3 linked regions of the Homo sapiens genome follow. The protein of the gene in region 3 interacts with the protein of the main gene of each other region in a biochemical or structural test. Each region holds a gene or a part of one and is shown on either strand. Other genes may lie near its edges. The genes, in order: ARHGEF11, SNTG1 and XKR7.

Region 1 (3,500 bases), on a different chromosome or scaffold from region 3:
GGAGAAGTGGCAGAGCTGCAGTGTTTCATTTGGGGAAATTGGAGTGGCTCCCCCTCCTTGAGTAAACAGATTGTGAGCTGGTTTCAGGCTCTTCTGAAAGGAGCAGGCAGCAGCCCTCTTGCCCTGCCTGACTCCAGCTCTGGATGAACTACAGCCCTGCCCTGCCCCTCTTCCATCCATGCCACGATCCTCTGGAGGTCCCTTGACCCAACCAAGGGGTGTCAGAGAGAGCTGGAGGAAGGACGTGGAGGGTTCCTGACAGGCAGGAAGCACAGAGAACCACCGCGGAATCTGGGAGGCTCTTTCAGCCGATTTCCACAGTGACACTGGAGCGGCGGCTGAGGTGGGGAAGTGGCTGCTTGCATATCAGGTGAAGGACACTAGGTCCCCACCCCCAGGCCAGGCTTCCCTGCCCCTCCCACAATTGCACACAGGCATTTATCCCTGCCATTCTGAACAGGAGCCTGGACAGGTGGCTTCTTAAGGCTGGATGGACAGCCAGCCTTTAGAACCAGATCTCCCCGTCTTTAGAGCCAGATCTTCCTCCTCCCCATTCCAGGCAGCTGAGGGAGCTTGTGGGTGTGTGTGTGACCATGGGCAGGGGTCCGACTCTGCCCTCACAGGTTCCACACTCCAGTCTTGGCCTGTCTTTAGCTCCAAGGAGAAAGTTATTACCCGTAGCCTTTGTTCCGCCTTCCACTTCAGGTGGCCCAGGCTCTGACTGGCCACTCTCTGGTAGTGCAGGGACAACCTTGCTGCCTGCCACCTCAGCTGCACCGACACCACCACCACCAGGAAGAGGAGAGACCAAAACACAAGGAAAGGGAAGGGAGAGAGAACAGGAAGGAGAGAGGGCAGGAGGTGGGGACAGGGGGAGGAGAAAATGGGAAGAACAAGGTGAACACAAGATCATACACGATGACATCCCAGGCAGTGCAGAGAACTTTCCACCAATTCACCGAGAGACAGAGAAGGAAGGTCAGTTCCCAGAAACCCAGGAGACAGGTGGCCCTTGGGCAGATGGAATGAAAAATGCTGCTGGAAGGGAGGCAGAGTGGAATCCCAGGGGAGGGCAGGCCCACTAGCGTGGAACCCCATCCCATGTGTGCCCCAGGCTTTGTTCTACTTTTCTTGCCACCCTCTCAGACCAGCCCACTCTTCCCGGGGTGGGGACCTTCCTCCCTGGGCTCATCTATTGGCCTCCCTGTGAGCTTGTCTTGGCTTTTCTTGTCTCAAGGCCGTCCATGGTGTTTCCCAACCCGGGGTGCCCTCCCTGCCACCTTGTTCACTCCCCACATCCCTCACTCGCCAAATGTCTTCCCAGCTTTGTCCTCCACCCCTTCCAGTCCCAGCTGCCACCTCTACTGCCCTTGGAGCTGTTGCCTGGCGTGAGGGGCTGCATGCACCTGCCCTGTCTTTCCCGGCCTGAGGCTCCTGAGAAGAGTGGCTCTTTTCCCTGGGAACAGGAGATCAGTGAGGAGCACTAACAGAGACTGGTACTGGTAGTTGGTTTGTGCCAGGCAGAAAGAAATGTCCTTATGTGCTATAAAACAAAGTTCAGAGATGATTCAGAATTTTGTCTAAAGCCACACAGATATTAAGTGGCAGAGCTAAGCTCTGAATCTCGAATGTCCAACTCCAAAGCCTGCCTGATATCGGCGTTGTCTCCTTCTTCCAGGACCCAGCGTAGGTCTCTGCTCACACGGTACCCAGGGGGAGTATAGGGAAGGAAGCAGCTGTTCGGAAGACTTATCTCACCTAGCAAGGGTGCTTGTCTCCCCACTGGACACTCCCATTTATTTTACCTTTTCTCACAACTTTGTAACCTCCTGCTGCCTCTGTGCTTGAAGCATCTTCAGCCAGATTCCTGTCCAGTTCTGGAGACTCCCATATCCCAGAATTTCTGGTCCTTGGGGGTAGGTGTTCCAGAGAACAGAGACCCATGTCTTCCTGCTCTGGCCGTTCCCCCTCCAGCCCTGCAAGCTGGGTGTTGTCCCCTTCACCCCCAGGGGGTGCTTGCCCTGGGGAGCCTGGGTCCCAGGGGTGAGAGGTGACGCTGATGACAGAAGGTGTGGGTGTCAGGTCGTCCTCGGGCTCCTGGGCAGCCTGAGTTTCCATGGTGTGACCTGGCAGCAGGCTCCACAGGATCAGATGTCGCAGGTTCTCCACTGGAGGGGAAACAGGGTGATGTCTTCCCAGCATGGGACTGCACACCACGCCAGAAGGATCGTTGTACTGCCCCACTGACCCCAAGGTGGTGACCTCAGGCACAGGTGAAGCTGGAGGGCTCTGGCCAACTAGCTGGTGGGGGTTGGGTGGGGAATGACATCTGTCTCCGCATCCATCTCTCCTCAAGCACACCAGGAAGAGCCTTCGGGAAGGTGGAGGGTGCAGGCGCCTGCCAGTTCACACTGGGTGTGCGACTGGGGACCAGGGGCTGACGGCAGGGCCTTGAAGCACTCACCATCTTCCAGAGCGGAGTCAGCGAGCCCTTCCATGAACAGAGGGCCTGGGAAGGCCAAGTGGATGGGGTTCCTTGTCCTGATGCCCCTGTTCTCTCCATCCAGGGATGTGGAAGGGCAAGGCAGGACACCCAGTTCCTCTTCCTCTGCACTGCCCTCCTGCTCAGGGTCCTCTAGCAGGACCTGGTGCTTCCCTTGGACCCTCTGCTGGGACCCAGTGCCTGTTTCGGATGAGAGAAGATTGTAAGGCAGGGAAAGGGAGAGGGCACGTATGGGAGAGCCTATGGGCAGCTTTGGAGCCAAGGGGCTGGGAACACTGACTTATTCTACAGTTGTTTACTGAGAACTTCCCATGGCCAGCACTGTCCCAGGCTCTTGGCATACAACAGTAAGCAAAACAAAAAGATCCCTGCCTATGTTGAGCTTACATTCTAGGGGAGGGACATACAAAAATAAGACACTTCAGTCAATTATGTAGTTTGTTAGAAGGCAGTAACTTCCACCGGAAAGAAGAAAACAACAACAGGGCATGGGGCTAGGGGCTGGACAGTGCTGGCTACAGTATTAAACAGATTGGGCCAAGAGGACACTGGAATGAAGACGTGAAGGAGGTGTGGCGTTAGGAGGAAAAGCATTCTAAGCAGAAGGAAACAACAGGGACCCAGCCAGGAAACCCGAGATTTCTCCTGAAACCCAAGACCCCAGGTTATTTCTCACGCAAGCTCTCAATGAGAATGCTGTCCCCTCTACCAATCCCATCACAGTAACTGCATCTTAAGCCCTTTGAGCTCCCCAGCCCCGCCATGTTTTCCATTCTCATTGTTGCAGCATGTATCTCCCTCCCCAACAGTAACCCCTGGCTGGAGGATGCAGGGCCCGTGGATCCCGCCAGACTGCTCGTCTTCTTCCACAGCTGATGCCGTCACCCAGAGAGGCTGGGTGGGAATTTCTGGTCAGGTGAGCGAGTTCACCCTTTCTTAAGTCTGTTCAGTCTGCTCTCCTTCCTCTTCCAGACTCTTCCTCCCGCCCTGTTTCTTC
Region 2 (3,725 bases), on a different chromosome or scaffold from region 3:
GAATAACAAGCACATGTCACTGCAATACAAAACAGACTGAGTGTGTGCAATCCTTAAAAAAAAAAGACAAATAAATAGAAGAATCTTATAGATGCTGCTATAAATAAGTAGAAAACACAGTATAAATTTTATCACTAAACTACACTATTTTAAAATCTATTTCCTATATTGTATTTCTAATCAGATGTATTACTTTTATGATTTTTATTGTTGTATGTGTTAATGACTTCATGTAAAAATGTAATTGCTTTTCATGAGTAGTATGAATACAATTGATTAGTTTGTGTTTTCTTATCTGTAAAAAAACCAGAAAAGTACATTATATTGTGTTCAAAAGTGAGAAGAAGAGTTGTTTGAACAGGATAGTTGTAGAAGGAGTATTGGCAAGCATTAGGCAGGGTGGACTGGAAATCAGGGACATGTTCCTGGATGATATGACCTTTGATAAAAAGTCTCAAAAACTCTGTGTGGCTTTGAAGGATGGAGGCAAAGGGAAAGAGCATTGTGAGTAAATGACGCCAACAGGCTGGAAATTAGGAGGTCATATTTGGAGAACAGGAAGTGACCTTGTCAACAATTCATTAAATCAGAGTATTTTCTATATTAGATTTAAGTCAGAGTAATGTCTAATTAAAATTAGAAATATATTTTTAATTAGTAGTAGGAAATAGCCTGGAAAGATCAAGTCGTGGAAAAATTAAAATTTTATTCAGAGCTGTATTACTAGTCACTAAACAAAAATGGCTAATTATAGAATGTATATGAGGTCAAGATTCCCAGAACTGTATTTTTACACTACTTTGGAATGATATTAGAACTCTAGGGAAGTGGTCATGCATCTGAGGGAGCCACACATCCTGCAGTCCCACAGACTCTCACCTGTATCCGTTCTACTTCTAGAAAGGTTGCTGTCTGGAAGGCTCTTTCCCACTGGGCGAGGTCACTTTCCAGCTCCACTGAGAAGTACAGGTCCTCCCCAGACTCAGACTGCACGGTGAAGCACTGTTTCCGTCGGTCCAGCAGGTCACTGTCCTGGTGAAAACCTGGAGTTACACAGGCTGGCACACATCACTTCACATTGCTAACCTGGCCATTCCTGACTGGACCAAGGTGCAGAAGCCACAGGTAAAAAGACAACACTCTGCGAATTCACCAAGTCTTCATTAGACATTATACCAGAACTCCGGGCTTCAAAGCCCCAACACATGACTTCTCTGTCTTTACACTGAAGCATGTCCATAAAATAGAAGTTAGGGTTTCTGGCTTCATCTCTTACTAACAATATAACCACCAAAGCATTTAACATACAAGACTTGGTTTATTACTCTACAAAGGGGTGACACACTATCTCTTCCCTTCCTTACATAACTGTTATGATGTTGAAATTAAATAATGCTTGTGAACATGTTTGTAAATTTTAAGGAACTTTATAAGCAAACCAAAATATTCTTCTCCATGAGAAATGAAAAAGAAAATGAGTCTAATTTGTCTACAGCAATAATATTGCTTAAAAAAAAACGCATTATTTACCTTACTTGTGTAACTGTATTTCATTGTATCAAAAAAACGACTTTGATGCTGGCAATTTCTTGGTCTTACCAGAAGTTTTCAACTGAAGTGTTCACAAATTTACATATATTCCAATTTAAGAGACATTAACATGAGAAAAAAAAGTGAAGCAAATAATTTATGAAACAGAGTAACCCAATGCAACATGTCAGATATAGCATTTTAAATACAGTCATGTGCCGCATAAGGATGTTTGGGTTAATGATGAACTGCATATGCGACGGTGATCCTATAAGGTTATAAGGGAGCTGAAAAATTCCTATCCCCTAGCAATGTCATAGCCGTTGTAATGTCATAGAGCAATGCATTACTCTTGTGTTTGTGGTCATGCTGGTGTAAACAAACCTGCTGTGCTGACAGCTGTGTAAGTCTAGCACATACGATTATGATGTATGCTACATAATAATAATGATGATAAGAAAGAATATGTTACTGGTTTATGTATTTACTGTATTATAGTAATACAGTAAATATTACTGTATTTACTGTACTCCTATTTTTTTAGTGTACTCCTTCTATTTATTAAAAATATAGTTAACTATAAAACAGGCTCAAGCAGTTCCTTCAGAAGGTATCCAGAAGACGGCATCATTATCATAAGAGATGACAGCTCCATGCGTGTTATTGCCCCTGAAGACCTTCCAGTGGGACAAGATGTGATGATGGAACTCATCCTGACTATATGCAGGCCAAGGTTAATGTGTGTGTTTCTGTCTTATTTTTTATAAAAATTTTAAAAAGCCAAAAATAAAAAAGTAATTTGTAAATTTAAAAGTAGAAAAAAAATGTAGAGAATAAGGATATAGAATAATTTTGTACAGCTACATAATGTGTTTGTGTTTTAAGCTAAGCACTTCTACAAAAAAGGCCAAAGTTGAAAAAATTAACTTTGTAAAGTAAAAAATGTTACAGTAAGCTAAGCTTAGTTTATTATTGCAGAAAAAAATACTTCTTATAAATGTAGTGTAGTCTAAGTGCTCAGTATTTATAAAGTCTATAGTGCTGTATAGTAACATCCTAGGCCTTCACATTTACTCATCACTCATTCATTGACTCACCCAGAGCAACTACCATTCTGCAAACTCCATTCATGGTAAGTGCCCTGTATCTGTGTATCATTTTTTTTTTAAATCTTTTAGACTGTACTTTTACTTTACTTTTTCTATGTGTAGATGTGTTTAAACAACTACTTACCATTATGTTACTTTTGCCTACAGTATTCAATACAGTCATATGCTATACAGGTGTGTAACCTAGGAGAAATAGGCTGTACTGTATAACCTCGCTGTGCAGTACGTTATGCTGTCTCAGGTTGTGCAAGCAAATTCTGTGGTGTTTGTACAACAGTGGAACCATCTAACTGAGAGGCATTTCCTGAAATATATCTCAGTTATTAAATGACTGTATATATGCTATATCTATGCAGTGTACTGAAAATTGTCAAAGGGTTAATCACTGGTATCTGTAATCATTTCTCATAAGGAGGGATGTAAGTGTATCATTATTAAACACCCAAAATGTTAGATGGAATTCTCTGCTTTGGCAAATGTTTAAAAAATAATAACTATTTTCATTGTTTCCTGCTTGCATTCTTATAATTGCTGGAAGAGAGCTAATGGAAGGCATTTACTTCCAGGGTTGTAGAATTTAGCTCTGACCCTTGCTGCCAGTAGATGCTCAGAAAGCTAAAAGGATGATAAATGCTGTGCTTATTGATTTTCCTACTCTGTCTGAAGGGAGAAAAAAATGAAAACATAATATGTTTGAGAGTACAATCTAATGATAAATTATAAATACTTTTTAGTAGTTTTGGGGTTATAATATCTATGGAGGGAACAATGAGAGATAATAACTACACAAGTAAATATATTAGTACAAATTATTGTAAATGCCATTATAAAAAAAATAAGAGGCTGGGCGCAGTGGCTCATGTCAGTAATCCCAGCAATTTGGGAGGCCGAGGTGGGCAGATCACTTGAGGTTGGGGAGTTCCAGACCAGACTGTCCCACATGGTGAAACCCCATTTCTAATAAAAATACAAAAATTAGCCGGACATGGTGGTGCATCCCTGTAATTCCAGCTACGTGGGAGTCTGAGGCAGGAGAATCACTTGAACCTAGGATGAGGAGGTTGCAGTGAGCCAAGACTGTGCCAC
Region 3 (3,825 bases):
TGAATGGGGGGATAGCCAGTGAGTCGAGGGGCATCTGGCCCACTTTAGGCTGAAGGAAAAGGGGGATGAAGCTTCCTACCAAGAATAGGAAGTTACCATTTCAGAATCTAAAAATATCTTTCACCATCTGTCCACTCGGGCACAGAATGATAAATGCAGATTAGTTCCTGGATGTAGACATGAATATTTTTATGTGTCACGCTAATAATAATAACACCACCTTGTGTGGATAGAGCTCCGCCCCCTTTTCCTCCAGGATAAGCTAAGTGGAATATACACATCATCTTGGCAGGAATAGATAGGGAAACAAAGGCAGAGAGATTCGACAACACAACAAGAGTGACACAGCAAGTGAGCAGCTGGGACAAACCCTAGGAGTCCTGTTTTCAACCCTCAGCCCCAAACTGAATCTTCTGAGTTAGGCAGAATGTGTTAACAAGTAGCAGAATAAATATAACAACAGCAGTAATCACCCTTTATATCTCTAGAGTGACTTTTTCCATGCTTTCCCCACACTCTTAAAATGTTACAGTCTGCAGGGCCCTCATGCAGACCTCTCACCTGACCATCCCAACAGGTAAGAATAATGCAATGATAAGACAATGAGATAAGAGGAGTAGGGATTCTCCCTCATTTCACAGAAGAGGAAACTGAGGCTTGGAAGGAGGAGGGCGGCTTGCCTAAGATCATATAGTAAGCAAGTTCATTCTGTTAGAGCACAGAAGGGCCTAAGCTACTAAATAGCAATTCAGATTCAAGAGGAGCCCTAGGTTTAGAATTCCTCCTCTCTCCACTTAACTCAGTGCAGCAGGCACCCTCAGTTCTGGCAGAGGAAGAAGACTGAAAGTGGGCAGCTTGAACAAAGCCTCAGTTTTGCCTTACCAGTTCGGGATTAAAGGGCAGCCAGTGGCCATCTAATCTCAGATTCAAGATTCCAAATCCCCTTGGCCCTGTTGGAAGGGGAGGACCCTTAGCTGGGGGAGAGGGGGTCATAGGAAGTAGAAGGAGCCTGAGGGCTCCCCAGTTGGGTCCAGCATATCTTTCTCCAAAAAGTCCAAGAAGTTTAGGCGGGATATTCATTTAGCTGTCTCAAATTCTGTGACTCTCCTTGCAGGTTGTGAATGAGCTGCAATTCTGAACTGAGGATCTTTGCGAGCAGGAAAGGACTTCTGAGATCTTTCCTGAGCCCAGGCTTGGCACTCAGGCAGAGAGGAGTGGGTTATGGCAGAATAGGGCCCTGTGGTCCTGTTTTAAGCTTCACATTTATCTTCATGAGCCCCGGGTCCTCCCCACTCACGCACACCCCTGAGGATCTCTTTCTCTCCTTTCTTGAACCATCCCCTCCCCTCTCGAAGGCCAGGTCAGACCGGATGGCACTGGGGTTGGTCAGGGCTTGGGGGCAGAGGTCAGGGAGAAGCCGACTGAGAAGAAATTAGAGCTGCAATGGGGTGGGGAGGGGGGGAGGTCAGGACAGGAGGGTAGCCCGGAAAGGTCAGATCAGGGCTGGGACGTCAGGTAGCCCTTCGCCACCCCCACTCCTCGGGCTCAGGTCCCTCCACCTGCGCTTCTCCTACCTCCAGACCTGGCCGAGCTGCAGGAGGTGGACGAGGGTCTGCAGCAGCCAGATGCAGAGGCGGCAGCAGCGGCGGCGGTAGGCGCTGGCCGAGGAGGGCGCAGGCTGGGGACCCGGCTCGGGGCTGCCTTCTTTGGTCCGGAAGGCGCCGGCGCTGTCCTTGGTGCTGATGGCGGCTCCGCCGGCTACGCTGTCCTTGGTGCTGACGGCGGGTCCCGGGGACCCTGCGGGCTCCGAGTAGTCGTAGACGAACCAGCGGAAGCTCAGTAACTGCACGACCAGCGAGGGCAGGAGCACGAACAGCAAGGTGAGGCTGAAGTAGGTGTGTTGATTCTGCAGGTAGTAGGAGGCCGCCAGCCACAGGTCCGTGGCACCGTCGGAGAAGAACACGAGCAGCGCGCACAGCACCCAGCAGCAGTCCCGCAGCTCGTAGCGCGGCCCCGGGCCGCCCGCCCCGACGACCCCCGGGGGCCCGGCCGCCGCCGCCGCCTCCCCGCGCCCGCCGGCACTGCCCCGGGCTCCACCGGCAGCCCCCTCCGGGTCCGGGCTGGCCGAGGCCGCCGCTCCATCCGACTTCGCGGCCATGTTGGCGGAGAGGGAGGCGGGGAGCGACTTCCGGGCGGCGGAGGGGGGTGCGGCGTGGGGAGGACCCTGCGCGGGCGGCTCCTCTTCCTCCTTCTCCTCTTCTTCCTCCTCCCCTCCACTTCAATTATTCATTCTCCTCGGCGCCGCCCCGCCCCGCCCCCACCCGCCTGAGCTGCGGCCGAAGGGGGGGCAGCCCCCGGGAATGCGGAAGCAGGGGAGGCGGGGCGCACCCCAGGTCACCCTCTCCCTCCTTCCTCGGAGGCGCGGGGCTCCAACCCCATGCTTTCTGTCTCTCATCTCCCCTCGGACTGCACTTCCTTCTTTTTTGTTTATCGCCTCCCCCTTCCCATTCTCTCCACTTCGTTTTTCTCCTGTGTTCACCTCCAGTGGCCTGGGTCTGACGGGGGGGTGGGTGGGGGACTTGGAAGAAAGGAGCTGGGGGACTTGGGCGGGCCCCCCAGTAACCCTTTAGCAGTCACTCCATGCTAACGCTCATTTCCAGTTTCCTGAGTGCTCACATATTGTTCCATCCCCTCCTTTGATCTTGAGGGGTCCCCTTTTCTTATTGTCTTCGTTTTGAAGCTGAGAAAGCTGCAGCTCTGAGTTGCTGTCTCTTCCTTACTCTCCGCTTTCCCTCTCTCGGGGACTGCCTTCATCTGGCTACAGCCCTAGTAGAGTAGGGGGAGGGAAGGGGACAACATCCAACATCAAGAGGAAAGGGATGGGAGGAAACACCGGGTGGAGGAAAGAGCAAGTGCAAAGGCCTGGAGGCCTGAGACTGGAGGGCATATCTTCAAGCAAGTCTGGATCTCAGATCCAGGGGAGGAGAAAGATGGGGAAGATAGGGCTGCAGAGTTCTGAGGATGAGATCCTAAGGGGCCAGAAGGTGGCCTTTATCCAGCAGGCAATGGGGAACCACTGCAGTATTTGAGCAGGGGAGTTATGTGGTCACATCAGGATTTAGAAAGAAGACCCAGCAGCCAGAGTAGAGAAGCGATCACAAGGAAGCAGCCTGGGGCTGGTGAGACCAGAAGGAGATTATAGCAGTAACCTATGAGAGGGGGTGGAGTTCCCACACATCCTGGATACCCCAAGCTCATTTCCCATCTCTGCCTTTGATCAGATTGGATGTATCCAGGCATTTATTATACAAACATCCATATAGTAGTGTCTCTTTGCCTGGCACTGTCCAAAACACTACAATTACTAACTCATTCTACCCTCACAATTTGTGAGGTAGCTCCTTTTTTCCTCCCATTTTACAGATGCAGAAACTAAGTCACAGAGAAATTAATTTGTTCAGGGTGACACAATTAGTAGCTACAGCCAAATTCATGCCCATCATCTGGCTCCAGAATAGGCTTTGCTACCCTTCAAGGGGAGGGAGAGAGGAGGGGCAAAGGGTAGGGGTTGAAGAAAGAGGAGCTGAGGAAGGGAAGTGGGAGAACCAACCTGCCTCAGAGTGGCAGGGAAGAGAGGATGAAAGGAGAGAGCTGCCCTGGGTCAGGAAGGAGAAGCCAACTGCAGTCCTGCAGCCTGGCATCCTTTTCATGCCCAGGGACTGTTTTGGTCTCAGCATGCTTAGGAGGTTGGGGTACCAGCTGTTGCCCAAGGCTGAAAACAGAGGGGAAAGAGTTAGGGATTAAGGGAGTTTTCCAGGATGGATT

Evidence for each region.
Region 1: the proteins of XKR7 (region 3) and ARHGEF11 interact in a test that uses a peptide from one of them, tested with the Homo sapiens proteins (one large-scale study listed by IntAct).
Region 2: the proteins of XKR7 (region 3) and SNTG1 interact in a test that uses a peptide from one of them, tested with the Homo sapiens proteins (one large-scale study listed by IntAct).

The regions. Positions count from the first base shown.
Region 1 is NC_000001.11:156,937,743-156,941,242, forward strand, and holds part of ARHGEF11 (rho guanine nucleotide exchange factor 11), read right to left. Parts: intron 3,332-3,500; exon of another isoform or gene 3,316-3,331; coding exon of another isoform or gene 3,313-3,315; intron 2,684-3,312; coding exon 2,465-2,683; intron 2,169-2,464; coding exon 1,806-2,168; intron 772-1,805; coding exon 676-771; intron 1-675. UniProt on the Homo sapiens protein: May play a role in the regulation of RhoA GTPase by guanine nucleotide-binding alpha-12 (GNA12) and alpha-13 (GNA13). Acts as guanine nucleotide exchange factor (GEF) for RhoA GTPase and may act as GTPase-activating protein (GAP) for GNA12 and GNA13.
Region 2 is NC_000008.11:50,701,907-50,705,631, reverse strand, and holds part of SNTG1 (gamma-1-syntrophin), read right to left. Parts: intron 1,059-3,725; exon of another isoform or gene 1,033-1,058; coding exon 880-1,032; intron 1-879. UniProt on the Homo sapiens protein: Adapter protein that binds to and probably organizes the subcellular localization of a variety of proteins. May link various receptors to the actin cytoskeleton and the dystrophin glycoprotein complex.
Region 3 is NC_000020.11:31,966,509-31,970,333, reverse strand, and holds the start of XKR7 (XK-related protein 7), read right to left. Parts: upstream 2,184-3,825; 5' UTR 2,159-2,183; coding exon 1,575-2,158; intron 1-1,574.